2 linked regions of the Homo sapiens genome follow. The protein of the gene in region 1 purifies or fractionates together with the protein of each later gene. This does not show direct contact. Each region holds a gene or a part of one and is shown on either strand. Other genes may lie near its edges.

What was found. The genes of interacting proteins can lie anywhere in the genome.
Region 2: the proteins of FRMD5 (region 1) and NRCAM purify together in Homo sapiens (affinity purification with mass spectrometry; 2 studies listed by BioGRID and IntAct, with this or other methods). This does not show direct contact.

What each region holds. Positions count from the first base shown.
Region 1 is NC_000015.10:44,185,272-44,192,289, reverse strand, and holds part of FRMD5 (FERM domain-containing protein 5), read left to right. Parts: intron 1-7,018. UniProt on the Homo sapiens protein: May be involved in regulation of cell migration. May regulate cell-matrix interactions via its interaction with ITGB5 and modifying ITGB5 cytoplasmic tail interactions such as with FERMT2 and TLN1.
Region 2 is NC_000007.14:108,453,433-108,461,033, reverse strand, and holds the start of NRCAM (neuronal cell adhesion molecule isoform A precursor), read left to right. Parts: upstream 1-4,597; 5' UTR 4,598-4,791; intron 4,792-7,601. UniProt on the Homo sapiens protein: Cell adhesion protein that is required for normal responses to cell-cell contacts in brain and in the peripheral nervous system. Plays a role in neurite outgrowth in response to contactin binding.

The DNA.
Region 1 (7,018 bases):
AATTTCAGTTATAAGAAATTCTGTCAAAGTATTTGTCTATCCTTTCATAATGCAGCATTTATTCCGATCTGGCATTTAGGATGTAATTATTAAGGTAATGAAAATGCCTTATATCTTTTCAATGAAGGTTGCCACAGTTACCAGACTATTCTTTCACTCTTTCTGATATGCAAATGTATTTGTAGACCATGAGAAATGAAAGTATACATAGGAGGGTTGTAGTATAATTGCTCCCCTGTGAAGAACATTGTTAACAGCTCCCTGCCAGTTTTGAAGGTCATTTCCTCGTAAATGCAGATCTGGTCTACTCATCTGTTTTTCATTCATCTGTTTCATTTATGGAGATACATATATATATATATATATAATATATATATATATATATATATATATATATTTACCACATTTATCAGCTTACTTTGTTATTTGGAGAAAATAGGGAAAATTAAAAAATGAAAAGATAACTAATATCTTTGAACTCAGTATACTGAAGGAGTCATTTACGTGCTTAGGCATGTAATATCCTAAGGAATTTTTATGTTTTTAAGAAACGGGATCTTGCTATGTTGCCTAGGCTGGACTTGAATTCCTGGGCTGAAGTGATTCTCTCGCCTCAGCCTCCCAAGTAGTTGGGACTACAGAAGTGCACCACCATGCCCTGCTTATAAGGAATAGATTATTTTATTATTATTATTATTATTTTTGAGGTGGAGTCTCGCTCTGTTGCCCAGGCTGAAGTGCAATGGCGCAATCTAAGCTCACTGCAACCTCTGCCTCCTGGGTTCAAGCGATTCTCCTGCCTCAACCTCCCGAGTAGCTGGTATTACAGGCACCCACCACCATGCCTGGCCAATTTTTGTATTTTTAGTAGAGACGAGGTTTCACCATGTTGGCCAGGATGGTCTCTATCTCTTGACCTCGTGATCCACCCGCCTCGCCTCCCAAAGTGCTGGGATTACAGGCATGAGCCACTGCACCCGGCCAGGAATAGATTTTGAACTATCTTTCAGCTTATAATAGTTTATAAATTATGAGAATATATATTGCAACATTTCTAATAGAAATATGTGTTGAAAAAATACCTATTTTCAAGTCAGAAATGTTAATCAGTTTTTTGTGATTACTGAAAGGTGAGCTACTCTAGAAATGAATTTGATTTTACTGAGAGACATATTAAAATAATGGATTAAGCAGCCAGGTTAAATTGTGCAGTTAAATAAGATACTACCATAAATAGAATGTGTGTGCAGGGGCATTTCCATAGTATAACCAATATTTGGATTTGATTGTGGCTCAACCACTTAGTAGCTGTGGTAGCTAGGGTGAGAGAGGGAGGGAGAGAACAAATGTATTGAGCCCTGTGCTTGCCAGGCACTCTAGAGTTTATAATAGATTAAGAGAAAGCTATAAATCATAAACCCTAAGAATTATCACATCTAGTTCGATGCCTTACATAGTTTTAATTCAATAAATATTTGTTCTAATTTGTTTGTGCTACATGATTGCTATGTTAACTTCACTTCAAATTTTCTTATTCCTGAAAACAATAAACAGTTCTAACACCTGTATAACTCTTTATAGTTTTAATCCATTCCATTACAAACCGTTTTGCTGTGTGACCCCTCTCCCGGGTGAGAAGTACAGTATGTTAGTGTGGTATTTATGAGGTCTTTGAGGTATTTATGAAGTCAATTTCTGCAATTATCCTTTGTTGAATTAGTGGAGTGCCAGTTGGTATAGCTCCTATGACTTTTTGGTTTGTCTCTTAGGATTTCAAAACTTTCAGGTCCCCCTGCCTCCATCTCTGCAAGTTTAGAGGGCTTAGATCAAATGAATACTGTGTGATGCAGTACTTCATGGAGTGTTAGAGTTCTGCCAGAATTAGGATTTTGGATGTAGGGATCACCATAGCTACAGAAGTTTCCTTCACACTTTTCCCCTTAGTACCCCATAAAAGAGGAGACAGACCTCCTCACAGCCTCATTTTCTCACCTCTTGCTCCAAGAGGAAGTGGACCATGCTTCCCATCCTGTTTCTAGTTATATCTATTTTAAGTTGAATTCACCTTTGATAGCCTCATCTATAACATCCTGTCTGACTCTGCGAGTTGCTCGTCTCTCAAATGTGTCTAGTTAAGGCTTGTACTAAAGAAGTGAATATCATGGAGGATTGGCAGCAACCTTATAGCTTCTGTTTCTCACTTCTGTAGTGCCCAGGAAGGACAGTGCTGCTTTCCTGGAGGCCAGGTGATGGTTGTTGCCCCTGTTTTCTGGTCTTGACTTTTTGGGGCTTAGGCCAACCACCTCAGTGGTTTTCTTATGCAGCTGGGAAATTTGAAGGGTACTAAAGCATCTCCATTCCCATGTTGCAGGGAGAATGGTGTTTCCCCTAAGACAGCAAATCGCCAATTCATATGTCTATCCTAGCAAATGAAGCAGGTCTTCCATTCCTTTTTAAGACCCTAGACCCTGGTGACCAATAAAACTCTTTGGACTTTTGGCTAGACATGGTGGCTCATGCCTGTAATCCTGGCAATTTGGTAGGCTGAGGTGGGAGGATCACTTGAGATCAGGAGTTTGAGACCAGCCTGGTCAACATGGTAAAACCCCCGTCTCTACTAAAAATACAAAAATTAGCCAGGTGTGTGCTGTTACATGCCTGTAATCCCAGCTGCTCGGGAGGCTGAGGCAGGAGAATTGCTTGAACCCGGGAGGTGGAGCTTGCAGTGAGCCGAGATAGCACCATTGCACTCCAGCCTGGGTGGCAGAGCAAGACTCTGTCCCAAAAAAAAAAAAAAAAGTCTTGACTTTTACAAGCACTGTAAATACAGGTAGAGCCAAAGATAAACCAGGGGGAACAGAGGGTCTAAGTTCACATACTCCCAACCTCCAGTTTCTCCATCAGGCTAAAACTGTCTCAGAGAAATTTAAATTATGGACCTTTTGCCTCCCAAGGTCAACATGTGATCTTCATTATTGTTGTCAACATTTTGACCAAGATAGGCCCCTATATTGGTCTTTCAACAGTTGTAATTGTTGTATTATTTCTAAAGATTGTGTTTTACTTTTGTGGTCTTACCAACTTTCTAGTATCATATCCTAGATTTGGGAGGCAGGAACTTGTAAAGACTCTTAGGTTCAAATTCCCCAGGCTTTTGCCTGCTACCGTTAGACTAAACACAAACTTGTGTGAATCAAGTTCTCTAAAGAGATCCTTCCGTGCCATGCTCATGAAGGCAAAATAATTGGGCCACATGCTTGGCAACCACTGAGTTTGTGTACAATAGCTCCATTCACTTGTCTACAGAAAACACCCCTTTGACAGTGATTATAGCTTTCAACCCCCCACCCTTCCACTTCTGACTCCCCGAATTACCATGACCTCATCTGCTGCTTCGTATTTAGAGGTGCTCTGGACCACTCCAGAAGTGCCTAGAACTCATTCCTGTGTGTTAAAGATCAGTTCAAAGCCTCAGACAACCACTGCCCACCAAGAAAAACCATTCAAAATCAGGACCAAATCTAGCTATTCTTATGCCTCATTTGAGTCATTTTACTATGTCACAATTCAGGGGCCCTTTTCCTTCAGTAGAAATTGTGAGGCCTCTCAAAGCATGGAAAATGAAATAAGGGATTGGATAAAGCAGTGGTTCTCAAAGTATGGCCCCTAGATAGGCATTATCCATATCACCTGGGTACTTGTTAGAAATGCAAATTCTTGACCCCATCCCAGACCTAGTGAATCAAAAACTCCGGGGATGGAGTTCAGCAGTCTGTTTAACAAGTCTTCCAGGTGATTCTTAGGCTTGCTGAGGTTTGAGAATCACTACTACTGGGTTACAGAGATATTTAGTAGGTAAAATGGACAAGTGTTGATTGACTGGATGTAAAATGTGAGGGAGAGGGAGAGGTGAAGAAGGAATCTCACATTTCTAACTTTTGATTTATTCCTGAATTGTCTTAATAGATTCTCTTCCCTTGCAAGGTAAATGCTAGGTTGTCTACAGATATGCATACCTATTTTCAAGTGGGTAGGAGTCTAAAGATTCTGCAGTGCGTCATTATACCAGTTTGATGCTGTTGTATTTATTGGTTAGTATTTTTTGTCTCTCCTGACCTAAAAACAGTAGATTATTGTATATTTGTATATTTTTTAAAAATAAATTTTGTTCACAACTTGACGCACTAGGGGAAAGGAAAAGTCAAGGCCCCTGTTGTCGAAGGGCTTACAACTTAGGGATTGCAAACACGTAAATAACAAACTATAAAGCATCATGGAATTTGGAGCTAAGACAAGGGGATATGTTGTGGCAATGCAGATTTGGGTTGGAGTTTGGGAAATGGGGAGGGATTCCAAAATTAATAATTGTTTTTCAAAGGAGATGAAATTTGAACCAGGTTATGAAAAATTGCCAAAAGCAGGGCCAGGCACTGTGGTTTATGCCTATAATCTCAGTGCTTTGGGGGACCAAGGCAGGAGGATCCCTCGAGGCCAGGAGTTTGAGTCTATCCTGGGCAACATAGCAAGACCTTGTCTCTACAAAAAATTTAAAATTTAGGCTGGCATGTTGGTGTATACCTGTAGTCCTAGCTACATGAGGGGGCTGAGGTGGGAGGATTTTGTAAGCCCAGGAGTTTGAGGTTACAATGAGCTATGATTGTGCCATTGTACTCCAGCCTGGGCTACAGATGGAAACGCTGTCTCCTAAAAAAAAAAAAAAAATTGCCAAAAGCAAAAATGGCATGGGGATGCGTAAAGAGCATTAGAGGCTGAGTTAACAGCAGACTACTTCTAAGTGGAAAAGTTAAAAATGTAAAGTCTTTAGTTTTTTTCTTTAGTATGTTTATCTGACTTACTCTGGTATAGTTGAGTCAAACAACAGAAATCTGCTTGGGGAAAATTCCTGTCAGTAAATTTCAATCATACTTGACATGCAGAGAGGAATCAATCTAAACTAATAATGCATAAAGCTAGTGTTGAATTAAATCTAATTCTAAAATTGTATAACACAAATTAAGATTCTTCACAAAGCAATGGCATTATGTCAAGAAAAGGTGGATTCAGATTTCAATCTTCATTCTGTGGCTGCAGTAACTACATATGAATTTTATTTCCAAGAGGACTCTTCTCTTCAGGATCAGTTTAATCATCTGACAAAAAAGAGGGTATCAAATTGTAACATTTAGCCGATGTTTGAAAATCCTTTGATGAATACAGTGCAGCCCCAATTGTGCATTAACAGTTAAGAAATGTGACCCATGGAGTCCTAAAAGGCACATTTCAGCATCTCTGTTCCCAAACCTAAGTGGCCACCAAAAATAGCTTCTCTTGAGGACCGAGGATTGCGTCTCTGAATTCCCCAGTGAACCCCTGACAGCTTCGAAGTTCCCAGCCTTATACAGGGTGTACTTTTAGCACTCAACACAATGCCAGGCTAGAGCTTTGGGGATGGGAACCTCCAAGAAAGCACTGTTCGGCATTTGGGCAATCAGTGTTCGGCAGAATGCCAATGCTAATAGGTTATTTTGCTCTGGAAAAGGAGAAAAAGAAGGGATAGTCTAAAGACTGATGAATAGGGGATGACTGACAATACGGACACTCCACTTTATTGGAGAGATTAAGGGGGCTTGCTGTGAAGTGGTATTGTGGGAGCCAGAAAAATTAGCAAAGGCCCACAGGCCCAAGACCTGAAATAAATAGTGGTACATCAAACCCGCATGCCCTAGGGCACACTCAAATGTCTGGCCACTTTCAGTGAACTTGTAGCAGGAAAAAGCCAAATCATTAGGAACCCTCATAGTCTGGTACTCCATCCAGGCACTCCTTAGTCAGGCAAATTATCCTTCACCTCCAGACAGGTGCAGAGCCTTTTTTCTCTACACCCTGACTTAACCCAAGGGCCTGTAGTCTGGGCCTCAGTCTAATTTTGAGGATACTGAGTGGAAAAGTTGGCTTCAGGATTTCCAAAGGATTCCAAATACTCTAGGCAGGAGGTGCCACTAAGATTCTTGTTTTGTTAGACTTGAACCAAGCAGGTAAGAACATTGATCATAACACAAGAAAGGCCGGGTGCGGTGGCTCACGCCTGTAATCCCAGCACTTTGGGAGGCCGAGGTGGGTGGATCCCCTGAGGTCTGGAGTTTGAGACCAGCCTGACCAACGTGGAGAAACCCTGTCTCTACTAAAAATAAAAAATTAGCTGGGTGTGGTGACGCATGCCTGTAATCCCAGCTACTCTGGAGGCTGAGGCAGGAGAATCGTTTGAACTGGGGAGGCGAAGGTTGTGGGTGAGCCGAAATCACGCCATTGCACTCCAGCCTGGGCAACAAGAGAGAAACTCTGTCTCAAAACAAACAAACAGACAAAAAACACAAGAAAGCAGAATTAGTGAATTCACATAAGGATCTCATGTACTTCCAGAGGTAATTTAAGATGGAGAAAGCATCTAGCCTGCCCTCTTTTAGATTTTTTGCCTCTAGAGCATTTTTTTTTTTTTAAGATAAGAGTCTCACTCTGTCGCCCAAGCTGGAGTTCAGTGGTATGATGTCGGCTCATTGCAACCTCTGCCTCCTGGGTTCAAGCAATTCTTGCGTCTCAGCCTCCTGAGTAGCTGGGATTACAGGCATGCACCACCACGCTCAGCTAATTTTTGTATTTTTAGTACAGAAGGGGTTTCACCATGTTGGCTAGGCTGGTTTCTAAACTCCTGACCTTAAGCAATCCACCCGCCTCAGCCTCCCAAAGTGCTAGGATTACAAGTGTGAGCCACCATGCCTGGCCTTGCCTCTAGAAGACTCTAAAGGCCCCAAAGTTATTATGGAATTGGAGGTTTGTAGGTCAGAAGGACTCCATGGATTGGCAATGATGCCTGGAATGTTATAAGGCATATTAAGCCTGCAATTTCTCAGTATACACTTATCTGTCTAACAGAATAGCCCCTCAGCTCTTCGGGAGGCCATTTGGAAGTTATACTATCAAAAGAAATTTGGCTGTTGAGCAGTGAAACTCTGATAAAAAC
Region 2 (7,601 bases), on another chromosome or scaffold:
CACATAAGGAAGAATACCAGGAGGAGAATGTCACTGGGAACCAGTTTAGAAAGCCTCCCATTATAACAACTATGCTTTTGGACAATATTGGGTTATAATACCCTTTCAAACAGAAAGGCTTTAAAAATTACTACATTTGCAGCTACTCGGGAAGCTGAGACAGGAGGATCACTTAAACCCAGAAGGCGGAGGTTGCAGTGAGCCGAGATCACGCCACTGCACTTAAGCCTGGGGGACAGAGTGGGACGCTGTCTCAAAAAACAAACAAACAAAAATACCTACATTTCTCACATGCCTGTCAGAAATCTAATGCACGTTGCCCAGCCTAACCTATTATATTAAGATAATGATGACACTGGTATAAGCCATTCTTCTAGCAAAAAACCTGTTATATTATGACAGGAACTTTTTTTTTCTTTTCTTTCTTTTTTTTTTTTTTTAGTGCTTCAGTCATTCTTACCAGAATTCAGCCAGGTTTTATCTGTGTTTTACTAGAGGAGCCGAAAAAAATGCTCTTGGTTACCACCAGAATCAAAAAAAATGACACAGCTGAAAAAGAATTTCTGTGCTCACTTAGTCCAATTCTTTCATTTTATAGCAAGGCAACAGGCTCATTACTAGCATTGCTGGGTCCATGTTAGGTTTTGCTGAATTTAACATTAGATTTGAGGACAGGACCAATGGTACTGCCTCCCCTGGGAGGCCTGCAGCATGGATGTGGATTAAGAAAATTGAGATGGAAAATAAGGCAAGGCGTTAAAAAAAAAAAAAGTGGAAGAGGAAAAGAGGGGAGGGAGAACTCTGAGAAAAAGAGACAGGACTGCAGAAGTAGAGGAAAAGAGAAAGGCTAAAACATATTCACTGCAGGTACCACTGGGGGGCTCCATGACTTTCTGATGTAGCTGTTTTAACACAGTGACATTCTGATGTGTCTATGAAAACAATGAAACTTTTGGTGTGTTGTCATTGATAGACAGCATGGCACAATGACTGGTTAAGACTTAACTTTGGAGTTATAATGCGGGGCTTGAATCCCATCTCTGCAGATAAACTGTGTGACCTCTGCAAGTTACTTAACTTTTTTTTGCCTTATTTTCTAAAAGGGGAATGATAATAGTGCCTACTGAATGGAATTTTTGTCAGAATAAATGAGTTAATAAATGAAAATAATAATAATGATTCTATTATTATCACATGATGAGGACACAGACCTTATTCCCAGTCCTCAGCTGGGTTTGAAGATGGAGTGAGGCTTGGTAATAGGGAGAGGATAAGGCTTAGGGATGGGAAAGGGATAGCAGCAGTTAGGGTAAGGAGGCAAGTTGTGGGTATCACCAGCAAAGTGCAGCCAAATCAGACTGCCTCATGCATCACCAAGCAGATCAAACAGACTGCATTAGAAAGTCTATTTGCCCACACCGCCATCTTTCTAATTGTAGAACATTTTTCTATCCCCACCTCCCATACTCCCTTCATTTCAGCTCCTCTTGAAGCCTCAGTTTGTTCTTCCTGTTGCTCATTCCCTCAGGAGATGAATCCCCAGCAATGTAGAGCTGCAGTGCAGTTGAAGTAATAAGCTGGAAATCAGAACTATATAATAATTTTATATTATTACAATTATTATGTAGTATCAAAATTACTTTCTGTTTTTTGAGACGGAGTCTCACTCTGCCGCCCAGGCTGAAGTGTAGTGGTGTGATCTCGGTTCACTGCAACCTCTGCCTCCTGGGTTCAAGTGATTCTCCTGCCTCAGCCTCCCCAGTAGCTGGGATTACAGGCACACACCACCACGTGTGGCTAACTCTTGTATTTTTAGTAGAGACAGGGTTTCACCATGTTGGCCAGGCTGGTCTCGAACTCTGACCTCAGGTGATCCACCCACCTCAGCCTCCCAAAGTGCTGAGATTACAGGCATGAGCCACCGTACCCAGCCCCAAATTACTTAATTTTAGTTTTTGTTTTGTACTATCACTGTGGTTCCTATCTTCTCCAGAGCTTTTTCTCTTCTGGCTTTGTACTTTTTATTCAAGCATGTATTTACATTACAGACATCTTATCAAATAATTACTGCTTAAACTAGAATTTGCTGAGCACCTATTATGTCCTAGATACTGTCCAGTGCTTTCTTACAATAACCTTATGTATTAAGTATTGTTACTCTACCTGTAAAGGTAAGGGAAACTATACCTGAGAAATCATCACTCACATAAAAAAAAAAGAGAGAGATTCTATTCATGTCCTTATTCTTTCAGCAACCCCCAATAGCCTAAGTAGTCTCCCAGGCATCAGGACTAACCTGGACTTCACCAGGACCAAATATCGTCTGCCTCAACCTGGCTTCATAGACCAGGACTGGAGCCTGAAGAGAAAGAACAATTCTAAGCAGAAGTTCAAGGAGCTGTTTAAAGAGGGTCTTTATGAGATTGTAACACAGGAAGACACAAGCAATGTTGCTTCAGTGCCCGGGGGATAAATTACTACACAGAACCAGGGCAAGAACTGAAGAGAGTAGGGTGTCATTTTCCCACTTGACAGGTTTGCCCTGTGGCATTCACTGGAAAATAATGTGGACCAGAAATCAATGTTTCTCAGTGGCCGGGGTGAGGGGCAATCTTGGAAAACCAGAGTACGAAGTAGAAGGACATGGGAAGGACAGGCAAGACAACCCCAGGATTCTCAGCAATTACTGCAGTGGGGAAGGAACGGAGGGGCCTCAAGTCCTTTACACAGGGCAAAATGATGGGGCAGTGAGAGTTGATTATGGTTATCTGTGGCTTCATTTGTATTGATGAGAAATGTGGTTACACAAAAATAAATAAGACAAATTGTCCTCAAAGAAGTGAAATTTTATGGAGTCAGACATGCAAACAGATCATTAAAAGGTGACCAGCACTATTATAATAGTCCTTACAGAGGAGGTAACAACCAAGTAAGGCTCTGAAGGATGAACAAGAGTTTGCCAAATGAAAAAGAGATGGACCAATATTCTAGCTAGGAGGAACCTCACATGCAGAGGCTTAGAGTTATGGAAAATGGAGAGATAAGTTAGGAGCAGATTGTAAAGAGGCACACCAGGAGATGTGGAATTTACTTTGTAGGCAATAGAGAACCAGCCCACCAGCCCAGACTTTCAAGTAGGGGGATCATGGAATCTTTTTTTTTGCGGGGGGGAAGGTATTTTAGAGGAAAATTTGGACAATTAGTTGAGAGGTGCAAGGTACCACCTGAATGGCAGTTGGGTAAGGACTAGAGTCAGAAGAACCACTGATGGGACTGTGGAAACAACTTGTGCAATGACCCAGCAGCCAGATATCATGCTGGTTCAGGAACCGAGGGAGGCTCTGTGAGGCCAGAGCACATTTGGCTGGAGAAGGAGGAGAGGATGGCAGTAGAAGGAGAAGGAAAAGAAGGCTGCTCACTTGCATGCAGATGCTGTGAGCTGACGGGGCAAGTTCAAATTGAAGTTAGAACAGACCACTGGGGTAGTCAAGACCTTGAAGGATGAACCTGTTTCTTTTTCATTCCTGAATCTTGCCCCAGCACCTTGGAGGCTGGGGGTGGAGGAGGTGGTGAGGTGGGGTGGGGTGGTGAGGAGCTCAGAAAATGTTTTCCTGAATTAGAGAACTGAAGGAATCAAGGCTCCGCTGAGCTCACTAAGCGCTGGAGCCTGCTGTAAGTGGTCAAGTCGGGTGATACCCAGCAGACAAGTAATTTGTGTGCAGACCGGAGTAGATTACGGAGGACCCAAGGGTCAGGCTAAGGATCCTGAACACCATCCACGATAGAGTGGAGACGTGCGCTTCGGAGCCTGAACTATGCAGCAAGCAGTGTGTTTACTCAAATACTATACAGTTGGAAAATCTTAATTCTCGATTTACATTGCCAAAAAAAAAAAAAAAAAATCTCCATAATACTCCCCCATTTGTAAATAAGCAAATCCGAACTAACCCTATTCCTTGGGACCAGAAGACCCAGTTTCTACCGCGGATAGATAGCATCCGCCTTATGCTAAAAGCTCTTTTTTCTGCGGTGGTGGGGGGCGGCGGGGAGTGTTTGGAAAGAACGGTTGCAAAAACAAAACAAAACCCCCAAAACCACTCACCCAATCTCAACCACCCCAACTGATGAATTTCGAAGAAAGTGCTTTTTAAAAAAGAAAAAACTAGAAGACCACAGACCTCCCACAGAAAGCTAAACCCATGAGAGTGGCATTCAAAAACTACCCATTTTCTGGAACATCTTTTGTAGCTAAATCCCAGCCATCCTAGCCCCGGAACACTCCCGCCCTCCGTCCCCGCACCCCCACCCCCGCCGCCACACGCGCTCGCAGGCTGACGGAGGTTGGCGGTGGGGCGGCCGCTCAGGTGAGGGGCCACCCAGTCCCTCGAGGCGCCGGCGGCTGGAGCCCATTCGCTGCCGTCGCAGCAGCAGGGCAAGAGGGGGTTGGCCAGGAGGGGAGGAGGCGGAGGACGCCCGCAGGGAGTGCGGGGGAGGGGGACGGGAGGACGCTAAGGAGAGCCGGGAGGGGCAAAAGCACGGCGCGGGGAGGGGGAGCGGAGAGGGCGGGAGCGGCGGGGGCGCGCGCCGGCGCGGGGCCAGCCTCGCTTCGCCAGGGTCGCTGGCGGACGCGCGCCGCAGTCCGAGCCTCAGACGCGCGGGCGCGGGGGACGGCGCAGGGGCCGCCTGGCTGGAGCAGCCAGAGGGGATAGCTTCGTCGAGAACGGAGGACACCGGCGGTCCAGGGTCCTGGGCAGTCGCGCCAGAGCTGAGCGGAGGGCGCGGCGCGAGAACGTAAGTAGCTCCTTGCGCGTCTGGCGGTGACACTGGGTCCTGCTCGGGGGTGACGGCTGGAGCGGAGGAGGACGCGCGAGGCTGCTGCGTTGTCACTTGGACACCGCCGCGGGGTTCAGCCGAGCGCTCACCGGGCTGGCAGCGCTGCAGGAGGGGCAAAGCAGATCTCCAACTCCCTTCTCCCCTGCAGGCCCCCGACACTCCCGCGGGCGCCGAGAGGGAGCAGGGGGACCTGCGCTTGGGTGAAGGCACAGCTGAAATCCAGCAGCGCCGGCACCCACCACCCCCTCCAGCCTGTGGCCAACTTCTGCTCCGCGCCCGCACCCCACGCTTTCCGGGAAGCCCTGCCCAGAGCTCTTGCTCGTGGGCAGTTGGGCATGGAGAGCCTGCGGGCCCGGCACGGCGGCTTCCCGGGCTTGGACACGGAGGCGCGGGGCGTCACGCCACAGTGCCGGCGGGGCGAGGAGCGCGGGGGCCGGGCCGGGAGCGCACGGGCGTGTGCCTGTTCGGGCCCCTGCGGACACGTCTGGGCGTGGGCTTTGTTCGGAAGTGCGTACACCTGTGCTGACCACGGAGTTCGGGGGCGAGGCCGACTTCGCTTCTCCAGTCGCTGCCTGGAGAGGGCTCGGGGAATCGAGGCGGAACGAGAGAGACACGGAGGACAGAGGGGTGGGGCGCTTGCGGGGGCTTTGTCGGCCTTACAGGTGCGGGTCCCGGGAGTCCCTGCGCCCCGCCCTGCCTCCGAGGGCTGGGACTTGTCGGGGCCGGCGCACCGGGCTGGGGGCTGCCTGGAAAGATTGCTTTCCCAGCCCAGGCTCTTAGCGGTGGGATCTGGCATCCGCTCCGCCCGGGATGCTGTGTTGAGCCAGGAGTGATTACCCGCCCTGGAGCATCCATCTCGCAGCGAGCGCCATCTGCGCCGAGCGCCGCCCCCGGCCCCCTCCACGCCGCGCGGGTGGGCGCTGCCGCATCCTGGTCCCAGGCGGTTGGCCAGCTCAGCTACTCCCGGCCCGCATCTGCTAGAGTGCGGAGGGGGACGGGGTGTCGCAGTAGGGTGAGCAAGGGAGTCGTCATTTCTCCCAAAGCGGTGTCCTCAGGGCCGCAAGCGCTGCTGGAGGGCTCCCCGGGCCCCGGGGCTGGCGAACAGGCCGCTTCCTTCCCCGGATCGCCTCCCCTCCCGCCCGCGCCCGCGGCCACATCTTCGTCCCCCGTACGCTGGCGGGTGGCCCCTGCGCCGCGGGCACCGAGGGAGGGCGCCGAGCGGTGGCGTTTCTTTCGCACCCCGCCTCTCTCCTTCCCTTTTCTTCGCATCAGGGGCTCCAGCCCTTGGCTACCACCGGCGCAGAACTGTCCTGAGAAGAAAGCTTTCTTTTCCTTTCCGAGTCCCAGATGGTTAACGCTCAGAAGTGCGGGTCTAAGAGACTGGGCTCTTCCTCGCCCCAGGCTTTTGCAGGAGGAGATGGAGCCAAGTGTAATGAGGCAGGAAGCATTGGTTGTGCACCAGGAGCTCCCCCTGGGGTGGTCCTGGAAAGGAACACAGTAACCTCTGAATACAAACCTCGGAGGCTGGGCTGCTTTATGGGACTGCATTGTGCTAACCATGCCCTGCTGTTAAAATATTGTAATAATGGCAGTACTTGCTGAAGTACTGAAATGGAGTTAGGCAACTGATACTTGCTGCTTTAATGGTAACGATAGCCAACCGGTTTTGAGAGCTTTAGATGTGCTGGGCGCTGCGCATGTTACATGTATCATCTCATTTAATTCTCACAGCAACCCCATTTTAAAAATTAGGAAATGAAGGCTTAGAGAAACCAAGTAACTTTCCCAAGGCCACACAGCTAGGAAGTAGGGGAGTGGGATTGTTTTTGTCCTTGTGCTTTACAATCCAAGACTGAGACTGTGGCCTTTTGGAGGCTTATCAGTTTAGGGGAAACCTAAACCACTGAGTGTTCAAAACCAGGGAGATACATTACAAGCCCATTTAATTCGGAGCTCTGCAGAACTCACAGTAGCAGGCAATATTGTGATTCAGAGAACTGTATTGTGGAATAGCCTTTTATTCCCATGTAACTCCTTTACATATTCTTTTATTCCTGTTAGCTTTTAAGTACGTGGCTGTTAACCCACAATCCAACCCATTACAGTCACTGAACAACATGTTCTTAGTAACCAGGGCCTCTGTGATTACATAGATGTTCCTGGCACATCATAAAGTTTCATAAAACTTTTTTTTCTTTAAAGAAAAGGTCCCCAGCCCTGAATGTCCTTTGTACACGGTTTTGACTGCAAATGAGTTACTCCTCAAATTGGATGTTGAGTTTGAATAGGACCCTAGCATCCAATCTTAGGAAATCATTCTATTTCCTAAATATATAGAAACATGTGGGGGCATTTATGAAGATGCTCCATGTTAACTAGTAAAAAAGGAAAATTTGAACCAAAGTGGAATCAGCTATTTCTGGAATAGCTTTTAGAATTATAATTAACTGATCAATTGGAAAAATTGATTTATTTTGCATTCATAATCCTACTGACTCATAGTCTTGTTTCAACCTTCTTTTTACTTTATTACAGGAAAGTTGCTAAACATTTTACATAATCCAGGAATTTTAGAGCTGTTAGAGGACTCAGGCAACATTGTATCTAACTAATCCTTCGAGTTTCAAAACAACTGCAATAGGGCTCAGCCTCGTAATGCAGGGTAGTGATGAGGTCTTTGGACTGAAGGCCATTGCCCTTACACCACATCATTTTTGTTAATGCTACGGTAACAGTGAATAGAAAGCAAAGCATCTTTGGAAATAGTA